3 linked regions of the Homo sapiens genome follow. The protein of the gene in region 3 interacts with the protein of the main gene of each other region in a pairwise test. Each region holds a gene or a part of one and is shown on either strand. Other genes may lie near its edges. The genes, in order: PPP1R8, THOC5 and PPIL1.

Region 1 (2,431 bases), on a different chromosome or scaffold from region 3:
TGTTTTACTTTATGTAAAACTCACAACACCATCCTTGGCTGATGTAGGATGGTGAAAACTTTGTTATGGAGCAGTGTTTGGGAACCATCGTAGATGACTGGAAAGGTCTCTTCAAACCGTAAGATTTCAACATCATGAAATAGGTTGTCTGGAAAGGAGAACAGGCTAGAAGTTAGGAATCTTTCCCAAAAGCCATTTTTTTAAGGCTGGAATAGAAAAAGCTAACCACTCTTGGGCCTCACCTCTTGTCTTCTCTCTCCAATCTCTCCCCTCTCCTCATCGTGAACTGTAGAAGAAGCGTGTGGAGGGCCCTGGCTCCCTGGGCCTGGAGGAATCAGGGAGCAGGCGCATGCAGAACTTTGCCTTCAGCGGAGGACTCTACGGGGGCCTGCCCCCCACACACAGTGAAGCAGGCTCCCAGCCACATGGCATCCATGGGACAGCACTCATCGGTGGCTTGCCCATGCCATACCCAAACCTTGCCCCTGATGTGGACTTGACTCCTGTTGTGCCGTCAGCAGTGAACATGAACCCTGCACCAAACCCTGCAGTCTATAACCCTGAAGCTGTAAATGAACCCAAGAAGAAGAAATATGCAAAAGAGGCTTGGCCAGGCAAGAAGCCCACACCTTCCTTGCTGATTTGATATTTTTGGTCATGGAGAAGGGTGGGATTGGGTGGGAATGGGGTGGAAGGGTGATGGGGAGCTAATGAACTAGGGAGAAAAACTTTCCATGTGTGCGGTATCGTCTTTCAGAATGTCTCCTGGCATCCTAACCATGTAATATGACAATTGGGGGTGGGGTTGAAATAGCCCATAAAGACCTGTCTTCACAACACTTGCATTGTAGAGAAAGGCTTCTTATATCCTTTTCAATAGACTGCCCTGGCTCTTTCCTAGGCCTTCCACTACCTCCTTTCTTTCTCCCACTTTCTAGGATCATTTTTATGTAAAGTCACATATCCCAGGCCCTCAGGTTGAATCCAGAGCTGTAGAGGTTACAGTAGCATCACCAGCCTTGGGGGTCCAGAGCCTAATTTATATTCACTATCCTTCCAAGTCCCGGGTAGCAGAAGGGTTGCCATAGATCTCAGTTTGATCAAAAAGAAGGCTTAGAATTCTGCAGTTAAGCTGAGGTTTAAACTAAAAAATGTTTCCTTGGGTCAGTGGTTTTGAGGTCCAGTAGCTAGGCTTTTCTCTTTTGTCCTTCCTGTTGGAATGAAAACATTTCGATTTTCCTTCATCTGTGACTGGTGCCATAGACACAGGTTTATAGTTTTAACTTACAGTATTGTTTGAAATTTACCTGTTTTTCTTGTCAAACCTGAGCACTCCTCCTGCTGAAGTTTCTTATTTAATTCCAGAGTACTGTCCTCTACTCTAAGGCATTACTTTTAAGTGTATTATGAAGGCAGTTTTCAAAGGATATGACCAGTTGGGGTAATTCAAATTAAAAAGGAAAAGATTTGTTTGGAAGTAACTGGTGTCTCTAAGAGGAATTTTTAGATGTCAGTTTGGAGGCTCTTTCCCCCCTCAATTGAGAGCTCTTGTTATTCAGAGCTCCAAGACTAGACCTGGCTAACAAACATAGGAGACAAAGTTAGGAAACATTGATACAAGCTTTGTACAGAGATTTGTACATTTGTGTAATAGGCCTTTTCATGCTTTATGTGTAGCTTTTTACCTGTAACCTTTATTACATTGTAAATTAAACGTAACTTTTGTCATTTGGGTGCAGGCTGTGAATTTGTCTCTCAGTCACTGATTGCCACTGCCATCTGGAAATGTTTGCTAAAGGCACAGTCACTGGGCTTGGGAGGCAATGCTCCATCCCCATTATATTACAAATAAAGATGCCCTAAATGAGTGTGGAAATTCTAATGAGAGAATGTAGTCCCCAGACTGAAGCCTCACAAAGCAGCGTTGGTTCGGAAGTGCTTGGTGCCCTTCATCAGGAGACCTCATGACGGGAGACGGGGCTTTAGGGCGTTTGCATAAGCCCTATCACCCACCCTGCAGTTAGAGCTCTGTGCATTTGAGCCATAGCTTGGTGACACAGGAGCAAACGGAAGCTAAAGGTAAGTAAGTTTAGGAGGGATTTCAGCAAGAATTTGAATTGAAGGAATATGCCTGCATACGGAATCTCATTTGCAGTAAGTATACTGTGTTTGTGAGACTTACATGTGGCTTTGAGATGAAGATGCCAGCTAGGTTCCAGATCCTTGGGTCAAGTGCAGACTCGTAGGAGGAGCAACCTTCTGAAGAACAGAAATTCATAACATCAGCTGTGCAAAGAGTTGACTTCCCCACAGGGTCTGTAAAAATGAGTGTCTCCCTCTCCCCCTCCCCCTCCCCCTCCCCCTCTCCCTCTCCCCACGGTCTCCCTCTCATGCGGAGCGGAAGCTGGACTGTACTGCTGCCATCTCGGCT
Region 2 (3,500 bases), on a different chromosome or scaffold from region 3:
GCAGTTGAGGCTGCAGTGAGCCATGACTGAGCCACTGTACTCCAGTCTAGGCAACAGAGCAAGACCCTGTCTCAAAAAATAAGTTAAATTAAATTTTGAAAGGGGAGAGGCCAGGCATGATGGCTGATGCCTACAATCCCAGCACTTTGGAAGAAAGGCCAGGAGTTTGAGACCAGGCTTGGCAACATAGTAAGAACATGCCTCTACAAAAAAACAAAAACAAAAACAAAAAATCTTAGCTGAGCATGGTAGCATACCTGTAGTCGCAGCTACTCAGGGAGCTAAGGTGGAAGAAGGATTGCTTGAGTCCAGGAGTTCAAGATTGCAGTGAGCTATGATCGTGCCACTGCACTCCAGCCTGGGCGACAAAGCAAGACCTTATCTCTACTGAAAAAAAAAAAAAAAAGGGTGTAGCGGGGAAAGGATGGAAAGCAAATGCATAAAATCCAAATAGTGGTCACTTATTAGGAGAAAGGGAATAAAGTGGGATAGGGAGGCCTCAACTGTATCTGAAATATTCAGTTTCTTCAGAATTTTTTTTTTAAAAGACATGAAGAATAGAAAGAGAAGAAAGTGGGGTAGTGAGGACAGAAACTCTGATACCAAAGAGTTCAGCCTTTCCTTACAGTTCTGGAACTGTCTTAGAACTACAGACAACTTCCTCAGCTCAGCACCAAGTCTTGAGGGTGTCAGATCCCACGGGCAGTGCCAGGCTTGCTGCGGCTTGGGTGGGACAACAGCACAACGGCCCAAACACAACATCCCAGGACTTCAGCAGGGAGCCCTGGCAGAGTCAGATGCCAGAAGAGGTATGAAGAATCAGAGCTTTCAATGCCTCTAAAGTGAGTGCAGGGACTGCAGAAGAGGGAGCGAGGCCCTGTGGCCCTGCCCTTTACAACCTGAGGGTGACACCTCAGCCCTGTTATGAAGAGGGAGAAGGAGGAGATGTCCGGTACTAGAAAGCGGTGAAGGAAGGAGCAAAGAGCTCAGGCTCAGCGCTCAGACTGGGCTTGCAACTAAGCCTGAATTTCCTCCCATGTAAAATAGAAATGAAAGCACCACCCCTAGGACTGCAGTGAGGGTTCAGTGATACACAGCGTGTGTGTGACTGTGTTGCAGAATGAGTCCTTGCTGAACAGGCTCTCACGATCATTATTATCTGTTAAGTCCTTGCAGGACTCCAGGATCTTCTGCTTTGGGCAGCCCCGGAGAGTGTTTGATTCTTGGCAGCGCCCTTTGTCTAGAACCCCTGTAATCAGCAGAGCAATTACCTGTGCCCCTTTCGATGAGCGCCATGTAGTAGAGATTGGTGTCCCCAGCCAGTCCCGCATCCACAATGTCTTTGGTGAAGTGCAGCTCCTAGAAGAGGTACCACAGACAAGAGGTGAACTGCTGGCTCCTCTGGTTAAACCCCCTGCTCTTCCAGTGAGGTGGCAGGAGCTGAAAGGTGACATGGTCCTGCAATCCTCAGGACAGTAAGGGTAACTTGTCACTCCTTCACCTACCATGTAATCCTCATGGGCAACTGTCACCCATTTCACCAGGCGAGAGACAACCTTGGCAGGGAAGAGGTACTGGCAATCACTGGTAACTGGCACAATGCCATGTTCTAAAAGAGAACAAGACAGATGACGTCACAGGTAGAAATCAGGTGCCACAGATGGGTAACTAGCATCCTCCTGGGGCTCTCTGAAGGGCTCAGATGGCCCGGCCAGCTATCCTGGTATACCTGGTACTCAGGAAGTACCCAGGTCAACACGTGCCAGGAATGCAAGCATGTCAACCTGACCTTCACCCAGTGCTATGTGCTTGTGGCCAGATCCAGTGCCAGCACTTATGGTGCTTTCTCTTTAATGCAAATGATAGCCTGCCAAAGAAAAACCCTTACAGTCAGAACTAGGGAGGGTGCCCCTGCAGCAGTGACTGTTAATTAGATCAAATAGCATAGAGGCCTGTGTTTTCATAGCTGACCTTGATGGAGGAAACAACTGAAGTGTTGTGTGTCAGGGAGAAGAGCCAGATAACTGCTCCAGGGTAAATTCCTGCTGGCATTTAAATAAGCAAATATGCCAACACAGTAAGTACTGTCCAGAATGACAAGTTCCCTACCTTGGGACAAAACAAACTCAGCAGTGCTGATGGGGAGCACGGCCCGATGGACAAACATCAGTGCTCTGGAGAGATCGGCAGCCATGTGGAGTCTAAGAACTGGTGGGGAGTGGTCTCCAGATGTGTCCTGGAAACCCAATGCCTTTCCTGACAGAGACTCTTTTTTATTTTTTACTTTTTATTTTGAGATGGAGTCTCGCTTTGTTGCCCAGGCTGGAATACAGTGATGCGATCTCAGCTCACTGCAACTTCCGCCTCTCAGGTTCAAGCAATTCTCCTGCTTCAGCCTCCTGAGTAGCTGGGAATACAAGTGCACACCACCATGCCCAGCTAATTTTTGTATTTTTAGTAGAGACGGAGTTTCACCATGTTGGCAGGCTGGTCTTGAACTCCTGACCTCAAGTGATCTGTCTGCCTTGGCCTCCCAAAGTGCTGTGATTACAGGCAAGAGCCACTGCGCCTGTCCCAGAGACTCTTTTAGGTCAGAAAAATCTTGACCCCATCCCCCTGCCACATGGTAAGCATTTGACAACCACTTACTGAGTGAATAAACTAAAAGAAGCCCCCAAATGCCACCACCTAAGTCAGTGGCTCATCATTATCACTTGGGAGCTTAGAAGAAAACATAGGCTCAGCCTCACCCTGGGGAACACGAGGTCAGTAGGCCTTGGGGAAGGGATATGCGAGTTGCTCCCTGGATAGCTATATTCAAAAAGCTGACTGTGAGCCACAGAGCCAGGGGCAGGGGTTCACTGTGCTCAGTTCTTCCCCCAGCACTATGCTCAGTGCCTGGCATGAATCAGGATCTCACTAAATATGTGTCGAATGCACATCAAAATCTGCAATGCATGACCTAGGATGAACTGCCCCGACCAGTCCACAAACTTGTGCCACCCAATGGCTCTGGGCCTCCTCTGTGAGGCAGGACAGCACTGATGGCTCTAAGGGGGAGCTCGGTCCTCTGCCTGGACAGGCCTGGAGCTCTCCCCAGTGGCTCTGCCAAGATGCCCACTCCGTAAAGCCAGGAATCCAGGTCTTGTATTTGTCATCAGGATTCAAGTTTTGAGTGAAAGGCTAAGTTGTTGTTGTCCGTGTGTTGTCTGAGTGACTCTTAAACCACTGCCCCATCATCAGCTTACCTAGGGATGCAAACTGTTTGTGGAGGGCCAGGCGGGACTGCACCCTGGTCTTCAGAAGTTTCATGGTGGTCTCCATGTGGCTGGCGCTCAGCGAGTGGTCAGCAATCACTGTTTGCTGTGAGTGACAATGAGACACATACACGTGTGCTCCCCCATCCCTTCCTCCGGGCACCATCTCTCTCCTGGGACCTGCCTGTCTGCGGCACCCTGGATTATCCATGCCCCAAGATGGGTACCCTTTAGACATGGCAA
Region 3 (3,733 bases):
TTCTATTTCAGGAAATATAGTTATTTGTTTCATCACCTTTGCCTTCCATATCTATCATATTTCTTTTGATTGTGTGATAGGATTTTTTTTTCTTTTTTCCCTGCATTCACTAAAATAATCTCAGACCTTTACTCTGTGCCTTACTCAATTTTCAGTCATTTTTATTCTGTTCTTTACTGCTCTAATTTATCTACTAGCTCATTACTGATGCCATTTGAATCTAAATTTGTTTCCTTCACTCTGCAATCTTTTCATCTTATTCTGTGGTGTATTATCTTGTCTTTGAGCTTTTGTTATATTATATTTTTACTTCTCTTGAATCATCCATAGCTTGAGATAGCCATGGAGAAGCCACTTTCTCCCAGGCTGAGTTCCTGGGTTTTCTTTTCCTTTCTCCCCTCCTCCTTTCTGTCCTTCTGTTGGTTGTGGTATGTTTGCCTAGTTTCCATGCCATTTGTTTTCATCTTATCCATGCTTGATGTCAACACCTACATTATCCCCACCTTTTACTTGCTCAGATACAGTGTAAGTGGAGTCTCCTTGTCATTCTCCCCACTTATGTGGAACTGGTTGTCTTCCCCACTTCAAATGTTAGGTTGCTTTCTCTCTATTCTATTCTAGCCTGAAGAGGTGTGGGAGAGAACTGGAGCTCAGCTCATGCTGAGCGAGCCCCTTGTGGGAGGGCTAGCCTCTGTTCTATCTTCCCAGACTCCCTTAAAGTCTTGTCCCAGAGCCCCCTCCACCAGCCAGTGGTGTCCCTCTGTCACCACTCCAGGCTCTGGGTAGTCCCCAAGTATGGCCCAGCACCCTGGAAGGTGGCCAGCCCTGCGTGCCTGCCCTGCCACTCCCGAGCCCCTGTGATATGTGTGGGCTTCTGCCCTCAAGGGCTTTGTTTTCAGAGCTGCTCACCCACTCCCCTGTTGGCTGTTCAGAATCGGAGGGTATTTGTGAGAATCTCAGCATGACATTTCTTTCCTGGTTACTGGTTTCAGGGAATACAGATGGAAGAATTTTCTATTTTTTCCTCTTGGCTGACTCTTTTTACAATTTTAGCATGTTTGGTTCCCTTTTCTTATTTGGTTGATGCTGGTGAACTTTTGACTTTTTAATTTTTAATTTTTGTATGTTCACTTTATTGGGTGTTGGGAGCATGTGGTAAACGTGCCTGATAGCAATAACTGAAACATACCCTTAGAATGACCCTGTATGGCAGACGCATCTGAATGTGTGTTCTGAGCTAGGGAATCCAGGAGTAGCCAACCTGGAGGTTCCTTCCTTGTCTATAAAGGGACATCTGAGCCCCTGGCTCGTCCTGTGAAACATGGGCCGCACACGGGTTGAGGCCCCGAGTTTTGAGTTGAATGAAGATTGCCAGGTGGAGATTGTTAGGGAGAAGGTGCTAAGTGGAAATGCTATATAAACTGCATGCTTTTTGCAAGCCATTGTGGTTCTCCGCCACCATTGGACTCTCTGCCCTGTATGTAAGTCCCCAATAAAACCCCATGTCTCATTTGCTGGCATTAGGTCTCTTCGGTCTATTGAACCTGATGCCATCCCCATTGGAGTCAATAGAGGTTCGGCACAACAGGGAGGCAGAGTCTAGTCCTGCTTCATTCTACTTTCTTTGTCTGAAAGGGTTCCGTCGGTACTTCGATGTACTTCTTTCCTGTCTTCTTCCTCTCTCCCCCTCATGTTGTTATGAAATAAATTTTAATTCTTAATACCAGTGAACTGAGAGTCCATGATTAGGGTACAAGTATTGGAAGTGACTCAGGTGTGAGTTGCTCATGCCACAGCTTTTCTGTATTTCTGTAGTTGGTTCATGATCCTTCATAATGTCACATTTCCATGGTGTAATTTTAATGAAATTGAATCACTCAAAAGATCTTCAAATAACTGCACCCAGCCTCAAGTATAATGAATGACTGAGCAGCCCACTGGCAGGTCTATGGTGGAAGGCAAGCAGGAGTTAGGCTCTCCTGGGTCACTAGTTCATATTTTCTAGCTGATTAGGTGACACGTTTTTTGTTAAACATCTCAGATGGGCAGCAAATGACATCCTGGGCTCTTCAGCAAGTTGATGTACCACTTCCATTCCCAGCTGTCCCTCAGTCTGACTACTGTGGAACCATTCTTTCCACATGCTTTCTTGTAATACATCTTTGCCAGATGCCTTGTCAATTCAAATACCCTTTGACTTCCTGCTTCATTTCATTTTAAACCATTTTTCTACCTTCAACTTTCCCATATTATAATAACTATAGAGGCTCTTTCCTTAGCCCTCTGAGTGTCTTTTATTTGTTTCTACTAACCTTTCTGTCCTCTCTGTAAGACATAACATCCTGTCAAGTTCTTCCTTTAGCTCTTCCTGCTCTGCACTTGGCCTCACAGTGCTCACCAGCTGCTGTGATTAATTATATGCTGATTATCCTGTGCGTCACTCTCACTTTGATTTCATCTCTCCTCTTGGTAGCCCCAGGAACACCTGAAATGTAACGTGTTGAACAGCAAGCTCTGTTAATTTTATTCATTTGATGAGTATTTGCCAAGAGTCTGCTGGGTATCCTGTGCTATTCTAAGGCCTGGGAGAAGCACTTAAGCATTAAAAGCCAAGGCATTTTCTTTTTCCTTGCAGTTCCCTGCCCTGCCAGGAAACAAACTATTCATTATAAGAAACAACTAGAATGGGATAATATAAATATGCAAATGTATGATAGTACGGTGTGGATTATGTATATAATATAGGTTGGAGTAATTCACAATAAGGGAAAAAGCACAATGGAATGAGATTAGGATGGGAAGGAGGCATATGCGAGATGGGTCTTGGGAAGTAGAGGGAAGGGCATTTTGAATTTAGGAAGAAGGGTGGGTACAGGGCAGGAGTGACAGAGGCATGCAGGGGTAGGGAGGGAGCCCGCCACCCCCGGTGTCACATCTTCCACTCTAGACTGGCTCTTGTGACATCACCCAGCCACCTCTCCACACCCAGAACAAATGCATCAAATGTGATTCAAAGGCCCCTGTAAAATTTACAGATCTCGGAACTGCCTGTTTAGGGGACAGTAAGGAGCAGTTTGGGGCCAGTTAATGGAGACTCCTAGACAGAGGAGTTCAGATTTGATTGAGCATGACTCAGGGACCATTTGGGACTCTTGAGTCTGGGATAAGACAAATCTGAGGAAATTTCATCCAGCTGTGGACTATGGCAAGACAGTTTGGTTCAGGGTAGAGCAGGACTGTGGAGCTTGGGCTTGCCTTGTGCTTCACATGAATACTTACTAAATGTAGAGGAGTTGCCTTACCCTGCTGAGCCAGCTCACCTGTCGGGAGTGTGGTTACGTGCACCTCCTAGGCTGGTTGTGAGTAGTAAATGAGCTGATGTTGGTACAGTGGTTAGCATGGGCTTGACACAAAGTGGGAGCTCAAACAAATGTGACTGGTTTTTTTTTTTTATTGTTAATTCATTTAACAAATACCTATTAGACTCCTTCTGTAGGCCAGGCACTCTTCTAAAAGCTGGAGATACAACAGTGAATAAGAAAGCCCTCGCGGTGCTCTCATTCTGGTGAGAGACGGAGAATGAAAAAGTACATAATATACTCTCAGGGATGGCAGATGATATGGAAAAAAGAATGTACTGCTGGGATGGAACAGGATTTCTCAACCTAGGCACTATTGACATTTAGAGCTGGATGATTCTTTGTTGGAGGGGGTGCTGTCCTGTGCATTGAAG

What was found.
Region 1: the proteins of PPIL1 (region 3) and PPP1R8 interact in a two-hybrid assay, tested with the Homo sapiens proteins (one large-scale study listed by BioGRID and IntAct).
Region 2: the proteins of PPIL1 (region 3) and THOC5 interact in a two-hybrid assay, tested with the Homo sapiens proteins (one large-scale study listed by BioGRID and IntAct).

What each region holds. Positions count from the first base shown.
Region 1 is NC_000001.11:27,849,801-27,852,231, forward strand, and holds the end of PPP1R8 (nuclear inhibitor of protein phosphatase 1), read left to right. Parts: intron 1-292; coding exon 293-646; 3' UTR 647-1,876; downstream 1,877-2,431. UniProt on the Homo sapiens protein: Inhibitor subunit of the major nuclear protein phosphatase-1 (PP-1). It has RNA-binding activity but does not cleave RNA and may target PP-1 to RNA-associated substrates. May also be involved in pre-mRNA splicing.
Region 2 is NC_000022.11:29,515,758-29,519,257, forward strand, and holds part of THOC5 (THO complex subunit 5), read right to left. Parts: intron 3,364-3,500; coding exon 3,249-3,363; intron 1,610-3,248; coding exon 1,506-1,609; intron 1,360-1,505; coding exon 1,272-1,359; intron 1-1,271. UniProt on the Homo sapiens protein: Component of the THO subcomplex of the TREX complex which is thought to couple mRNA transcription, processing and nuclear export, and which specifically associates with spliced mRNA and not with unspliced pre-mRNA.
Region 3 is NC_000006.12:36,864,701-36,868,433, reverse strand, and holds part of PPIL1 (peptidyl-prolyl cis-trans isomerase-like 1), read left to right. Parts: intron 1-3,733. UniProt on the Homo sapiens protein: Involved in pre-mRNA splicing as component of the spliceosome. PPIases accelerate the folding of proteins. Catalyzes the cis-trans isomerization of proline imidic peptide bonds in oligopeptides. Catalyzes prolyl peptide bond isomerization in CDC40/PRP17.